2 separate regions of the Homo sapiens genome follow, and region 2 is linked to region 1. The links come from fine-mapping of genetic effects on gene expression. Tissue or cell type: tibial artery. Region 1 holds a variant in brackets; the other region holds the start of a gene. All regions are shown on one strand. Distances are between the middles of the regions.

Region 1 (8,186 bases):
GGAGTACATGTGCAATAACAATATAATATAAAAATGATAATAAGTTAAAGTAACCCAGAGAAATGGTGCCTCAAATGGAGAGGAGAGGATTGCTGTCAGGTCTTGTTTCATTCAACATGTCCTATGATCGTGAGGGAGAAGGAGTCAGTGGTTTGTTAATGAGATTTGCAGATGGCTTTAAATTGAGAGGTATTGTAAACAGCGGGAATGACTGAGAAATGATACAAGAGGATCTGGAAAGGTTAGGAACATGGACAGGAAATCAAATGATTCAGCCTGGAGTAATGCAAGCCAATCTGACATCTGGGGCCAAATACGAAGCAATACAGATATGCCATGAAAGAAGCAAATATGGAAAATAGTCATCTCAAAGGAGGTTGGGAGGGTGGGTACTAGAGGAAAACGAGAGACATGGGAAGAAGGATGTCAAATGCCCACTATGTGCCTGGTATTTATCATGTTGATTTCTTTTTGACCAAGGATAATTCAGTGCTGGGAAAGAAATTAGTTTTTTGAGGATTAATTATGCACAAGAGCTTGGGTACTTAGTGAAATAAAAACTCAACCTGCCTCTAGTTGATCCTAATGAGTGTTCTCAGTGTTGATCCTAATGAGTGTTCTCAGTGTAGAGTGAGAGTGTAGAGTGTTCTCAGTGTAGAAAGCATTGTGGAAGTGGCCCAGGGTCTCCAGAAGAGCTCCAGGGGAGATAGCGCTTGCCACATATCTGCCTGGGCATTTCTCATTCCATGGGTATTTCTTAGAATTGTTGGAGAAGCCTCCACCCGGCTATCCTAGGTGCCAGCAGCACGATGGGGGGCTCACAAAACCTTTGGTGAATTAGCCCAGTTGTCCACCTTAGGCAAAAATAAGGTGTGTGCCCCATGATCTGTTCCTTCCATTTGTGTCCCTCTTTTTCGCTCCTCTGGGACATTCATGTTAGCCTCTAGTAACATAGAGCTCCCAATCCAGCCCTTTGCTTGGGTTTCCCACTATACCGTATCCTTCTCTCTTGCTATAAAGTTCTGGCAATCGTTTGTATTTCCTCTAGATGTCAATGAGCTAAATCTGGTTTAACAGCAGCATTGGCTTAATTTACAATCTGCAATATTTCTTAAAATGGGGTCACTAGTTCTCATTTTTTTTAGTTTTAAGGTCTTGAGAAATTGGATCACAGTTCAGATTTCATGGGAATAAGGAGAAAGAGGACCAAATTACTCTAGGGAGGATAAACCCTGAACAGACACTATTGACTGTATCCATTCCCTGTCCTGAGGAGAGGACCAGAGCACTGGGATGAAAAATGTGTTGAAGGAGTGAGCTAGAAAGGAAATGGATCAAAGACATCTCATTTGTAGTTCGTTCAAACTTGTAAGATATGTTAATGGCTCAGATTGGAAACCTGAAGCTGAATGTATCACCTGTCCAATAATATTTGCCTTATACTAGGGCCCCTTGTGATTGAAGCCTAAAACATTAATTCAATAAGCATCTACTGAGTGCCTCCTATGTTCCAGGCACTGTTCTTGGTGTTCAGGATACATCAGTGAACAAAACAAAGACCTCTGCCTTTGTGATTCTTACACTCCAGCAGAGATGACAGTTGATAGTGAACCTAATAAATAAGCAGATTGCATCACATAATAGGAAGTGATATGTGCTATGGAAAAAGAAAAAAGTAAAGCAGGGCAAGGAGGCTGGGACCACTGGGGCTGGGGCAAGTGACAGTATGAAATATGGCAGGATAAGTGGCATTGGGAAGATGGCATTTGAACAAAGCCATGAAAGAAGGGTGGGGCTGGCCTCTAGTATCCGACAGCATTCAAGGCAGAGGGCACACATAGAGCTTGTCTGGCATGTCTCAGAAACAGCAAGGAGGCCAGTGGTCAGGAGCAGAGTGAGCAGGGGAGACCACGAGATGAGGTTGAAACTCAGGGGAGGGAGCAGACCAGGTAGGAGCTTGAAGGCATTTTTAAGGCTTTGGCTTTTACCCTGTGTCATTGCAGTTTTTGAGTAAAGAAGTGATGCCACTGATTACTTTTTAAGAAGGATTACTTGAGCTATGGTTCTGGTGCTAGACAAGGGTGTATAAGCAGGAAGAGAAGCTGGGAGTATATTGTAGTGACTTTGAGCCAAGAGTTGGTGGATCAGGATGGTAGCAGTGGAAAGGTAGGAAGAGAATGGATTCTGGGTGTACCTTGCAGACACTATCAACAAGATTAGATGTGGATTGTGAGAGAAAGAGAGAAAGATGACTTCAAGATTTTTGGCATGAGCACTGGCTTAATCAAGTTGCTATCAACTGAGATAAGGAAGGCTATGAGTAGAACAGTTTTTGAAGGGAGATGAGGAGTTCCATATTTGACACATTGAGTTTGAGATGTCTATTGAACATCCAAGTGGAGATGCTGAGTAAGGCTGGAGACCAGGAGGTACTAACTGAAGAGTTGTTAGGGTAAAGGTGTTATTTAATACCATGAGACGGGATGAGACGATCAAGGGTTTAAGTTATAGAGAAGAGGACTAGGAACTGAGCCCTGAGGTATTCTGAACACTAAGAGACCATGGAGAACACCAGCAAGGAAGGCTAAGCCCAATGAGGTAGGAAAAAAATGGAAATAATGTGTTATTCTTGATGCCAAATGAAGAATGTGTGTCAAGGAAGAGGTGGTGATTTGCTGCACTGAATGCAATTGATGGATCATGTTAAATGAGGACTGATGCCTGACCATTGGATTTAGCAAAATGGAGGTCATTGGTGACCTTGACAAGCAGTTTTGATGGAATGGTGGGGGCATAAGTCTGATAGGAATAGGTTCAAGAGAGACTAGGAAGAAAGAAATTGGGAAGAGAGAGAAGAAAAAAATGATGAATATGATAATTATAAACAGCATAAGAAGTCTGGGGAAGATACCTAGAGGTAAAAATGCCTTCCCCTGGGTCCTCCAGCTCACATCAAGGAGGCAGCCACTTATTTATTTATGTATAGCTGGAAAGCAAATTAATGTGCAGCAGCAGTGTTAAGCTAGGTCACTGGGAAATCTTCCCCATTAACGGAAATCCACATGGGGTTTAACAGGGTTTGTTGAGGGACTTCTAATTTATTACAAAAATATTGCTGTTTGAAACATGGGCTTTCTGTCACAATGATGAGCTAAATTATTTTAATAAATAGGGTCTAGCATATTAATACTTCTATACTTAGTTAAGCCAGGTGATGTGGAGACCAAATCAATCACTGGGGTATTTTCTTCTTTGTGGAGGATTTTAGCTTCTGTGGTTTAGGTAATAGATTTTTTTTTCTACCCAGGCCTGGGACCTAGAGTGCATATGAAGTAAGTCGCATCTTTATTTTCCACTTGAGCTAATTAATGACTGCATGCATTCATCAGGAGACAGGATGAGAACATATTTGAAAATTAAAGGGTTATCCCTACAGAAGACATTGAGGGTGCTGCATGGAGCATAAGGATGGATTAGGAAAAATGTAATATTTTAAGGGCACAGAATAGTCTGAACAAAAGCAGAGGCCATGGCGTCATCCTCTCTCTTACCTTCTCTAACTAGTCAATCACCTCATCCTGTCTGTTTCTTGCTGTGGTCATTACTTAAATTGGAACCGTTGGCCTCCCCCACAGTCCTGGTTTGTCTTTTCTTTGCCTTTGTGTTGCCTTTTCTTTCCTGGGTTACTGTTACAGATGCACCATTGGCCTCTCAGCTTCTGGATTTGCTCCTTTTCAATGCATTTTCTACCTTGTTCAACAAAGATCTTTCTCAAATA[C/T]GAAATAATCGTGCTTCACTGTTGCTTAACACTTTGAATGGCTCCTTACTGTTATCAAGTTTAAACTCCTATGACAGCTTATAAGACATTTCATCACCTGGTTCTAGTTTATGCCCCACCTTCTGTCTTCGCCATTGAAGATCCAGCCATGAAACTACTCATATCTCCAAATTCTCCAGACTTTCTTTTAAATCTTTGGATCAGAGATTCCAATGAGGGATAGGAGAAGCCATAAAATCAATGTAACAGGGCTAAACAGAAAATTAGAGTTTTAAGCTCCATTAAAATAGAAATACAAGGATGTCCTTTGTTTGAATATTCCTTATATTCAAATTATACCAGATGTTTCTATTTCCACTTGTCTAATGCATGTGCATAACAGCACTGCACATAAACCAGTAGTTGGCCCCTCATTCTCCACTTGGCTTTCGGAACTCTCATGGTCAGTCTTTGGCCCTGTATTCACACTTTGCTCACTCTACACACTCTTCCTTGCTTGCCTTTCCAATCCCTGGGCTTCAAATGTTGCCTGTATTTGGAAGTCTTACAGATTGACATCTCCAGCCCAGGGATCTCTTCTGAGATCAGACTCCTGCCCAAAGAGAGATGTCCAAGAGGTCTGAGCAATCTCAAGCCTGTATCTAAGGCTAAACTGTGATCTTCAGTCCATCAAAGTCTCTTTTTCTGCTAGTCTTTCCCATCTCAATAAATGTCACCTGTATCGCTCCATTGCTCAAGCCAGAAGCATGGAAACTTACCTCTTTTTCAGTTTGTAAGTAAACCGACATGCAGGCAATGTTTGAAATGTTTTATGCATGTTAACTTGTTTAATCCTCATAACAAATCTTCAAGGTAGCTACTATTATTATCACCCACTTTTTAGATGAGGAAACCAAGGCACAGTGAGGTTAAGTAATTTGCCCAAGGTCACATAACTTACTAATGGAACTGGGATTTAAACTCAGACAATCTAGCTTCAGAGTTCATGTGCTTAACCTCTACCCCAACTGTTATTCTTAGCACCTTTAATTCACCCTACATAGAAACAATCAAAGTGCAATCAGTTCTGGCTCCCAGAATCTCCTGAATTCATCAACAGTCATAGGCGTCATAGTCTTTTGCTGCAAGTATCATAATAACTCCACAGGGATCTCCAGTTCCGTCCTTGTCCTCCCGCAACTCTCCAATCCCAGGCATTCTTCCCAGAGAAGCCAGATCTTAGCTTTGATGTAATTTTTTCCCCCGATTGGGAATCCTTCCTTGGCTCTCATAACTGAATCACATCCCCCCAGTTATTTTCCGCAGAACATCCTATTGTCTTCTTTCATATTAAGTTTTCTAATTTAAAATGCTGCATCTGTGTTTTACATTTTTTAAAGCAAGCACCATGACAGCAGGGATTTGATTTTATTTTCTGCTATCTACCGAGTCCCTAGCACAGAGCTTCGCACATAGTAGGTACTTAGTAATATTTGTGAACAGTTGGATGAATGAGTCCCTAATAATAAGTAAAAAGTGACTGTATAATTTTTATTTTATGTATTAAAATGAAGGTACAGTGATACCTTTTTATAATGAACTAATGAAAGGAGGCTCATGAATTAATGAAAAATATATAACATATGACTTTTAAAAACTACAATGCAGTTTTATTGTTTCAATGAAGAACATTGTATAATTTGGTTATGCATGCCACCCATTGCTTCTAACCCCACACTCCTTTCTAAGAGATTCCATCCATACTCTCACACCCCTAGCTCAGCTCATTGGACCAGGGATGGAAACTGACCCAAGCTGGGCAAATTAGATTCTCCCTGTTCAGAATTTAGAATCAGGAAACTGAGAAACAGATCTTTAAAGTAACTGCATTCATCTATCTGTCAAATGTTTTTCAAGAATCTAGAATGAGCTGATTATTGGAGATATGATGAGGAAGATACCTTGAAGGTTTTTACAATCATCTGAGAAAACTGATGAATAAAGCTGCTGCTGAAATTCAGAGTGTTGAGTGCTGTGATATAGGTAATATAGGATGTAAGTACTATAGAAGCATATAGGAGAGGTCCCTTATTCAATCTTGGGAAGGATGAGAAGCTTCCCAGGGGAGGTGATATCTTAGATGGAAGAAAGCTTTATAGATCCAGGGGAGAGTGGAGGTGAGGGGGATGGCATTCTAATCAGATGGAACAGAAAATGCAAACAGTGCATTCAGTCTGGTGTGCAAGAGTTATGCTGAGGGTGGAATGTGGTCTCCATCATGAAGGCCCTTGTCAGCCTAAGCGAAGTGTGGGCTTTATCTTGAGGGCAATGAGAGTCCTGAACAATTTGTTGTTGTTGTTGTTGTTGAGACAGAGTCTCACTCTGTCGCCTAGGTTGGAGTGCAATGGCGCGATCTCGGCTCACTGCAACCTCCACCTCCTGGGTTCAAGCAATTCTCCTGCTTAGCCTCCCAAGTGGCTGGGATTACAGGCACCCACCAGCATGCCCGGCTAATTTTTTTTTTTTTTTTTTTTGTATATTTAGTAGAGACGGGGTTTCACCATGTTGGCCAGGCTGGTCTCGAACTCCTGACCTCAGGTGATCCACCCGTCTCAGCTTTCCAAAGTGCTGAGATTACAGGCATGAGCCATCATGCCCGGCCCTGAACAAGTTTTTTTAGCAGAGGAGTGACACGTTCAGATTTGCATTCTAGAAAAATTTCTGTGGTCTTAGCAGGAGAAAGGTTTTAGAAGCAGATGGATCAGTTAAAAGATTGCTATAGAAATTTGGACAAGAAAGGATGATGGCAGGAATAAGTTGACAACAGTGGGAAGAGACAGGGTGGATGTTTAAAGTGATATTTAGGATGATGATGGGAAGGGAGAGAGGAATTAAGCATAAATTCCAGGTTTAAGGCTTAGACTAGCAATAGATAGTGGAGTCACCCACTAAGACAGGATACACATGAGGGAGCTCAAGGAAGAGATTGAGGCTGGAGACATAAACATGAGCATTATCTGCATATAGTTAATTCAAACCTTTGGGTGAGTTTGTGGAGTGAGAAAAGAAGAGGTTTATGGATGGAACCCTAAGTAACTCCACCTTTGAAGTAGCTGGGTGAGGAAGAAAAACCCACAAAAGAGCTTGAGGAGATGCGTCCAGGGAGCCCATTGGAAATACAAGGAAGAGTGAAGTCACAGAAACCAATGGATGAAAGCTTTTCTAGAAAGTTCTAAACAGTGTCAGTGCTCTCACAAAAGGACCTAAACAAGCACAACTCCAAATGTAATTAACTGCTTGTGCATATCTAACAAACATGAATATTTCTCTTAAGTAAGCATTATTCTCAGTAATCTTATTCACAGCCTCGATTTGCTTGTCTCAAGAATGCTTTGAAAATTCTCTAAGAGTGAAGTCTGAATTCGTGAAGGTTTTCCAAATTTGGTTTTCAAATGTTATTACGTGTCGGTTCGTGAAGTGCATTTGAATGTCAGAGTTGAGAATGTGGAAAAAAGTAGACATAAGGAAACTTATTTTAAAAATGTTTTTCAACTTTAAGGAAAGCATCTAACAACCCACTACGTTTAGCATTTCATGTGTGTTTATGACCTGTCAAAAACTGCCAGAAATTTACTTGTGAGCAAGAAGTAAAAGATGTTGCCTGTTTGTTATCTTTCAGAGCGTCCAAATTCTGAAAGCCACTTTGCAACCCAAAAAGAACTTTCCTTCATCAGTGGACATATGTCAAAGAAGAGAAACATTAGTAATAGGATCCAGGCCATGTAATGTTCATTAAACAATTAGATGCTGGTGCCAGTGTGTAATCGCTTTTTTCCATTTTATTTTCAACAGTTTGAGTGTTCCTAAGAGGCTTGCATGGGATTGAATCTGGTACTTTCATCAGAATTTTAGTGTATTTTCAGTATTGGTAACATCTCCTCTCTCCTACTTACACTTTGCAACAGACTCTCCTGGGTCTGATTTGTGCTCCTTCTTCTGAATGTTTAGTCAATTTAATATACACAGTGGAAATATTCTGAAAAAAAAAAAAAAATGCTAGGTTTCCAGCAGAGTCATTTCAAAGATGAGGTGTTGTTTAAAAACAAAACCATACCATCTATCACAATTACAAGGCAGGAAATACAATGCTCTACAATGTTTAATCAGAGCTTTTCTTAAGGACTCTTGTTTTCTCAGCCTTACAAGCACCATAAACTTCTCTGAAGATGATTTTGTGGCATCCCTCTGAAGCTTAAAGTCCTGGAAAAACTGAACAATGTTTACCGAATGCTTTTCATTTAAAACTGTTTTGTTGAATCATTATTGAAATGGAAAAGAAAGTGTAATACGAAGCATTCGTGGTCAATGCTACCTATTCCTGGGTCCAGGACAGAAGGCCTGCGTCTAGCCAAATGCCCAGGATAGAGTA
Region 2 (8,186 bases), 24 kb before region 1:
TGCCTCAGCCTCCTGAGTAGCTGGGATTACAGGTGTGCGCCACCACATCCAGCTAATTTTTTTTTTTTTTTAGTAGAGATTGTGTTTTACCATGTTGGCCAGGCTGGTCTGGAACTCCTGACCTCAAGTGATCCTCAAGTGGTCTGCCTGCCTTGGCCTCCCAAAATTCTGGGATTACAGGTGTGAGCCACTGTGCCCAGCTGTCTTTTTAAAGCCCCAATCTCTTTCTCTCAGGCACTTTTATTTTTTTTCTAATGTAATAGGGAAATTTGAAGGTAACTGATTTATCTACTCAGCATCCCATAGTTCCCCTTGAAACTTCCTCCAGTGTCAGAAAGAGAGCATGTCTCTCATTTTCAATGCCTGCCAGCCCCGCTGCTCAAGCTCCGGATCTCAGCCTCAACTCTTAGGGCAATTTCTAGGATCCCATCCTTCTTCTCTCCAGCATCTTCAGACTTTTACTCATAATAGCCAATTTTGTCCTCATATGTGTGTAGATTCACCATGTCGTCTCTTTCAAAAACTTTGAGTCTTTCAGTCCTGTCCCATTTCTCTTCTTCCTTTATCAGTCATATTCCTCATGCTCTTAGACCTGTCCTTATCGTTTATACCCTTTTCTCCAGTAATCCCTTGCCACTGGATTTCTAACAACCTCCTCTATCAAAAATGCTCAGCGGAAGGGTGCCAAGTGACCTTCCTCCAATAATATTCAGCAGCATTTTCCACCACACTTTTACTTTATTTAATATAGTTTATGGGTTTATAAAATGCTTCTTCTTATAATGTCCATGTAACAATAGCTGTCTACCTCCCATCCTTGACTATGTAAATCCACTAATATTGTATTTGGACTTTTACTTGTCTTTACTTTCTCAAAACTATAAATTCCCATGCCTTCCAATTCTGGTTCTCAAGTTAGTCAACCAATACTCTCCCTGAGCAGTCTCCAGCTTATAACCAAACCCAGCATTCGTTTACTCATCTTCAGATTCCTTGCCATAGTCAGTCCTGTTTCTATGCCTTCACTTATATAGCACAGCCCATATGCAATGCCTTACTCTGTGCCAATCTAAATGCAACGTACCCACCCTTCGAGATCAGCTATCATCTTCTTTCATTAGGCCTTTGCCAAGCATTGCAGTACATTCAAGCCTTTGTCTAAAACCATACTAGACTTGTCTTCTTGACAAAATGGTACTTCCTAATAGTCTCTAGTTAGTTCAAATATGTGGGCCTTGTTTCATCAACTGTGCCTCTAAAAGCTTGAACATAAGTTTTTGCACAATCACGGCTCACTGCAATCTTCTCCTCCTGGGCTCAAGCCATCCTCCCGCCTCAGCCTCCCAAGTAGCTGAGACTATAGGCACACACCATCATGCCCAGCTATAATTTTTGTGTTTCTGTTGAGACAAGGTTTCATCATGTTGTCCAAGCTTGTCTTGAACTCCTGGGTTCAAGTGATCCTCCCTCCCAAAGTGCTAGGATTACAGGCGAACATAAATTTTTATTCCCTGACAGGCTTGCAGTGTGCTAGGCATACAGAAGCTGCTTAATGAATTCGTTTAATGGTGTAATACTAAACAAATATTATTTACATAAATAATAACAATAATATCATGGCATTGATATCTCCACTTTGGGTGAAACTGGGCTTTTTAATGGACTACACAGGAGGCTACATGAGGCAGTATGACACAGTGGTTAAGAGTATAAACTCTGAAGCCAAAACTGCCTGGGTTCAAATCTTGGTTCTACCACCTACTGGCTATATGGGTACTGATATTTTCTTCTATTTTCAAGGAGGGACACAAAGATGTTAGTTAACCTTAGGAAGGTACCTGTGTCATGAAATCATTATGGAGATAAAGCAAGTTATGTTAGATACTTGAAACAACTTCTGGCATGTAGAAATTGCTCCATAAATGTCAGAAATTATTAAATGTTCATTACACATAAAATGATAGCATCTCAGAGATAAAAGAACTTTTGCTTTATAAATGAATGAGCAGAGGTATCAATGTAAAATGATTGGCCCAAGCGCATATGGCTAATCAGAGGCCAAGTCAAGAACTCAGCTCTCCTTTTTTCTATTCAGTGTTTGTTCTTTCCCCTCCTTAAGGATTTTATATCTGAACACAAATTACAGAATCTTCAAGTTCAAAGGGATATTTAAGACTTTACAATTTAATTTTCCCATAAGGGACCATATACTGTACCATCATTTGTCACAAACCTTTCATCTTTCCCAACAGCACCATTTCCCAGATTCTTAATCACCCAGACAAAAAGAGCCTAACAAACCTTGCACTGTGGCTCCCAAGTTAAGAAACACATGAAGGATGGGTATGGATGCCAAGGTCAGGTTGCCTGAGTTCAGATGACTATCACCAGATGAAACCATTCTTAATGATCATCTTTTGAAAAATAAGATTTCTTTTTTGGGGAAAACACTGTCTGGGATACTCATTATAAAGCTGTGATTCAGGCCATCCCACACAAACATGGATGTTTTGCAGACAGTATTCTTCCCGGTAGGAATCTGAAGTTATGATTTAGATGAACTCTGAACAATACTCTAAAACAGCCAGGAAAAGGCACAGGAGCCAACTAACCATACCAGGCATAATTTCTGAAGGCTTCAATTTTCTGTGTGGTTCTCTGGAACAGTATTCAGCCTGTTTGTGCAATCAGCTATGTTAGAGTTTTTTAAATTCAATCTAACAGATACAGACTCTCAAGAGGAACTGCAGCAATAAAAGATTGCTATTATCTATGCACTAATAAACCTGTGTGTAAGGATTCTTTCATCAGATGCAATGACATGCTATTCTGTCTCAATTCAACACTAAGGGAAGAGATTTAATTTCTCTTTAATGCAAATGAAATCACTGTATGTAGTAGCAGCAGTACGGAAGAAGGCCAAACTGAGTAACTGTGTTATGTGTCCACTAAGAATGTTCATTCACTCCTCTCAGTCCTGCTACAAACAAGGCTCAGGAAATCCACATTCTTTCTGTATGATTGTTTTAAATGCCTGAATGTAGTATATGGACCCTCAGCTTTATGGCTTAGGATTTTCTTTCCCCCTGCCTTGCCTTTGTCAGTCTATGGTTTGACATTTCTAACCCTCAAAACAGGGAGGTTCCATTACAATCTGAAAGTTGAATTACTTTACTTTCTTTATACTGAAGACTCAACAGATAGTCTCCACTGATCACACAGAGGATGCACTGTCCCTCCTTTGTGTTTCTGTAGTATTTTGCTTATATTTCTAACCCTACTCGTGATTATCTGACTTGTTACACCTTGGTGTGTGTATATCTCCTTTGTGCACTGTAAACTCCCGAGGACAGAATTCATGTTTTATATATTTCTGTATTGTTCCAGAACCTTATGATGTCTAAGACATAGGAGCTGCTCAATAAATGTTTCGACAGTTTTAATGGTACATATGTTATGCATTTTCCAATTATACAGTTATTATTAATGAATTCTCATTTCTGACATATCTCTTTTTCATTTCTTAGAACTCTTGGTTTTGAAACATGTAAAAAAGACTTTAGCAGGCTGGCACTGTAATTTGAATGATTATGTAAACAGTAAGGGAGTGCCTAGCAAATATTTGTTGAATAGTAATTTTACGAAAAGTTGCAGAGGTTTCTTTTGAGTTTTAGTTAAGAAGATCCGACCATCTCAGTGGAATAGAGGAAAGAACTCAGAGGCATGACTGCGAGGGTGTCCCAGAAAGACTACTGTGCCTTCTAGAAAAAAGACCCAGCACCCAAGTTCTAACTCTGAGACCCAGTCATATGTTTGGATCATAGCATTTCCAAGACCAAAATTTCCTCTTTAATAGTTTTTCTGAGAAACTGTCAGGTTTAACGTCAAGAAACATTTAGTCTGTGCTCATTAGGCCCACAGACATGACGAGCTACATGATTTGAGGGGCCCAGTCCAAAATAAAAATGCAGAGCCCCTTGTTCAAAACTTAAGAATTTCAAGACAGTGACGGAAGAGCATCAGCCAAATGAGGAGCCTTTTTAAGCACAGAGCCTTGTGTGGCTGCACAGGTCCCAAACCTATGAAGCTAGCCCTCTTCTGTGAAAGGCAAAAGGTCTGTAGCTAGGGAGAGAAGCTACAATTCAAATATGCACAAGGGGCTACAAGAACCCAGAGCTCCTAACTTTGTAAAAACATCACAGGGAAGGTGAGTTAAGCTCATTTTTGAGGGAGCAGCTGCATAGGGAAGAAAGATATTCCAGATTGAAGGACCAGCACTGAAGGTGGGCACAATTTACCTGACGTTCAGAAATACTGTAACTTTTAAGCAGGGTTGTGCCAGTGAACATGAGGGTGAGAACAGGTTGAGGCTGGAAAGGCAGGCAGAGGCCACATACATGGGAGAAGGGGTTGAACAATTACTGAGTGCCTCCTGTGTGCCAAGTTCTTTCTCTCCGACATTGTAAATACCACAATCTTGTAAATACTGGGTCATCCCTGTTTTACAAACAGGTTAATTTAGGCATCACACAGATTTAATGTTCAAAGGGTTTGGAACACTCTAGGGATCTAATAAATATTAATATTTGAAGAATTACTGGTGGGTCTGACTTAAGGCACACAACTCTTACCCTTTAGGCCAAGCTGCTCCTAAGAGTTCTTCTTAATCCCTCCAGTCGTTGTTTCTCTCATCTCTCAAGAGCCCCCAAATTACCCTTCCCTCCCTTAGCCACGCCCCCGCGTTTCACGTGCCGGAAATTAGGAGGAAAAGTACTTCCGGGATAGTAAAGGTCGGCCCGCGCAAGATGGCGGCCCCCTTGGAACTCAGTTGCTGGGGAGGCGGCTGGGGACTCCCATCGGTTCACAGCGAGTCCCTGGTGGTGATGGTGAGGCCGCCTCGCGGGCCAGGGCGCAGGAGGAAGGGGCGGGGCTGGAGGCGCCAGGCTGACTTGCCCCAGTTTCCCGCTGCGCTGCGGGGTCCAGGAGGGCCGAGCCGCTGCACGCTGCATTGCCCTGGGCTCCCTCCCACCGACGAGTCCCAACCTGGCCGATACCCCCGCCGAAGGCCGGCGGCGACATCAAGGCTTCTCCGCTTGGCTCCGAGTTTTGTCCGCCTCACAAAGCTGTCTGGGCGGTGGAGTGAAACCCCGAAGCAAGGGGCGCGCCCTCCCTACTCTGCATCCCCAGGACCTTTTGGGGAGCAAAGTCCTCGAAAGCCGGGTGGCTGGCGCCCGCGTCCCTACTTGAGATCACGGGGAGGGATGCGGCCTCAGTATCAGTCGCCTTCTGCCTTTGGGGGATGGGGCTGTGAAGTAAAGCTGCTCTGCAGCTTTGCATTACGCACTTGGTCTAAAATGTTTGATTGCAAACTCTGTTTCAGGCTTATGCCAAATTTTCTGGTGCACCCTTGAAAGTCAATGTGATAGATAACACCTGGAGAGGTTCAAGAGGTATAGTGTAAACCTTTACACTCCCCTTTCTGCACTCTTTTTTTTCTTCTTCCATTTAAAGCTGTGAGGTATATAGCTATAATATTGAGGATTTAGTTTCTTACCGTGACCTTGGCTCTGTGTTGTTTATGGTTTGATCATTCTGAGTAATACCTCAAAGTGCAAGCGAAATCACTGGAAATTATGAGAAACGAAAATGTTCTTTAGAACCGCTCTTTGTGAAACAGCAAAAAAACCAAGACAAGCTTACTCATTTTTTCCCCTCTAAATGTGCAACTGCTATAGTTTTTAGGATATTGGAATCTCTCAGAGGAAATCACACTGTGTCCTTGTATGTAAACTGTTTTTTGATTATAGGCGATGTACCAATTTTGACAACTGAAGACGACATGGTTTCTCAGCCAGCAAAAATACTAAACTTTTTAAGAAAACAGGTGGGTGGTTCACTTTGAAGAAGTAGATTGGTAGATTGTTGATCCCTGCATGTTGGGCTTTATTTTATTTATTTATTTTTTTTTGCCAACTCATTAGACAATTGGAGATACCTGGGACAAGATGTAAAAATAGATTTGAGAATCACTGCTCTAAAGCATGAGTTCTGTGATTTGAAAGTCATATGAAGAGGTAGTCAGTTTATATTTTAATAAACTTTGCTTGAATTTTATTGAAATTTGTATGTAAGTAGATTTAATTAGCCATTTTCACTATTAAACTTATTGATAGGATTGTGTATTTTGTCACATAGTTGGTACACATTTTGTGCTGGGCATGACACCTGAGCTCTCACCAACTAGCAACTATATTATTTTTAAAAAGCTCTTAATAGCAGTTTTATGGAATAATGTATCTAAATGTTTTAACAGTAGAGAATTATGTATCCAAAATGTTTAAACATGTAAAGATTTATATGAATGGATAAGTTATTTGTTTTGCCAATACTGTACTTAAAAAAATTGTGTCAATAACATTTTGAACTTTTATAAATTGGAAGGTTTTTTCTTTTGTCTTGGGGAGAAACACAGCCAATTGGAACTGTTTCCTTCTTGTTAAAAATAATAGTTGCTTTGTTTGTACTACATGCCATGCACTGAACTAGGTCATTAACAAGCATGAAAATAATAGTAGTTAATATTGTAACATTTATTGACCATATTGTGTATGTGATGCTGTGCTAAGAACTTTATGTGCATTAAGCAATAGGTTTCACTGGATTTGTATTTCTCTTTCTCCCATTTTAATACCACGTTTGCTATTTGTAAGGAAAAATATGAATCCTGATTTGATTAGTTTTACTGTCTTTGGGCTGCTCTTTGACTTCTGAGTTTCTTTGGTTTATTTTTTTTTAATAGAAATATAATGCTGATTATGAACTCTCAGCAAAACAAGGGGCAGATACATTGGCTTATATTGCTCTCCTCGAAGAGAAGCTTCTCCCTGCAGTGGTGAGTGTTCTTAAATATTACAGTATTTTAGTAGCCTAGTTGCAAATGTACATAGTCTGTTTAGAAAAAAACCAATGAGAAAAGTCTTAAGAGAAAATTTTACTTATATGTTAATCTTAATTCCTTCATATTACTGTGAAACTGGATTCTGTTAGGCATTCAACTAGTATGTGAAACAACAAAGTAAAATAAAATGTCATGTTGGAAATTCTTTGTGGGAGATGGATCTTTTTGCTCCATGTATAGAATTGGGTGTAATTCATTCATTCAACAAATGTTTATTGAACACCTGCTATGTGTCAGGCCTTGTTCTGGGTGTTTGGAAGATAGCAGTCAACAAAACTCACACATTTAAAATAATCTTGTTTTATCCTGAGTCATTCTAACTGGAAAATTTGTATGAAGACACTTCATATAAAGATATTTATGAAAAACTCTCATGTTGATTGAGTGATCTTTCATTTAATAAAAGAACATCCTTGTAGTGTTTTTTCTCTTCTTTTGCAGCTTCACACATTCTGGGTTGAGAGTGACAATTACTTTACTGTGACAAAGCCATGGTTTGCTTCACAAATTCCTTTTCCTTTGAGTTTGATCCTGCCTGGAAGAATGTCTAAGGGAGCACTGAATAGGATTCTCCTGACCAGAGGACAGCCTCCCCTCTACCACCTCCGAGAAGTGGAAGCACAGGTATAGTATGGATTATTCTTCAAGCAAGGGCCCTAGAGAGAAAGGACAAGATAAAATGCAGACTTGAGTTTACCTAGAGATGCCTTCCTCAAAAGTAGTTTTAGAGTATCTTTTCTACTTTTGAGATATAATTTCATCCTTATTAGATATACAGAGATGCCAAGGAGTGCCTAAATCTTCTATCAAACAGATTGGGAACATCTCAGTTTTTCTTTGGAGATACGTGAGTATTCCCTTAAAAATCATTTTGGTATTTTGTGCACATATATTCAGTGAGCAGCTATTTAAAGCAAGTCCTCTTATCTCCCCAAAAGATGAGTTTTTTACTTAAAAAAAACAAGATTTAGGCCGGTGTGGTGGCTCATACCTGTAATCACAGCACTTTGGGAGGCCGAGTTGGGCAGATCACCCGAGGCCAGAAGTTCAAGACCAACCTGCCCAACATGGCGAAACCCCATCTCTACTAAAAATACAAAAAATTAGCTGCGTGTGGTGGTGGGCACCTGTAATCCCAGCTACTTGGGAGGCTGAGGCAGGAGAATCGCTTGAACCTGGGAGGTGGAGGTTGCAGTGAGCTGAGATCACGCCACTGCACTCCAGCCTG

What was found. PIP is the estimated chance that this variant, and not a neighbour inherited with it, causes the effect.
Region 2: MTX3 starts here. The variant in region 1 is fine-mapped to the expression of MTX3 in tibial artery (GTEx, PIP above 0.99).

What each region holds. Positions count from the first base shown.
Region 1 is chr5:79,963,430-79,971,615 of GRCh38, reverse strand. It overlaps LINC01455 (long intergenic non-protein coding RNA 1455), which reads right to left. Exons shown (of 3, transcript NR_131226.1): 3 at 3,990-4,029. The region is part of intron 2 of LOC105379048 (a long non-coding RNA gene); the gene reads right to left. Among named protein-coding and RNA genes, the nearest start is that of MTX3, 24 kb to the left of the region's middle. The variant C/T (reference allele first, on the strand shown) is at 3,779.
Region 2 is chr5:79,987,858-79,996,043 of GRCh38, reverse strand. MTX3 (metaxin 3) reads left to right here and starts at 4,782. Exons shown (of 9, transcript NM_001363818.2): 1 at 4,782-4,886; 2 at 5,381-5,450; 3 at 5,808-5,884; 4 at 6,800-6,892; 5 at 7,400-7,582; 6 at 7,729-7,805. The coding sequence starts at 4,806. It also overlaps a transcript of THBS4 not described here. RefSeq lists an enhancer at 5,115-5,284.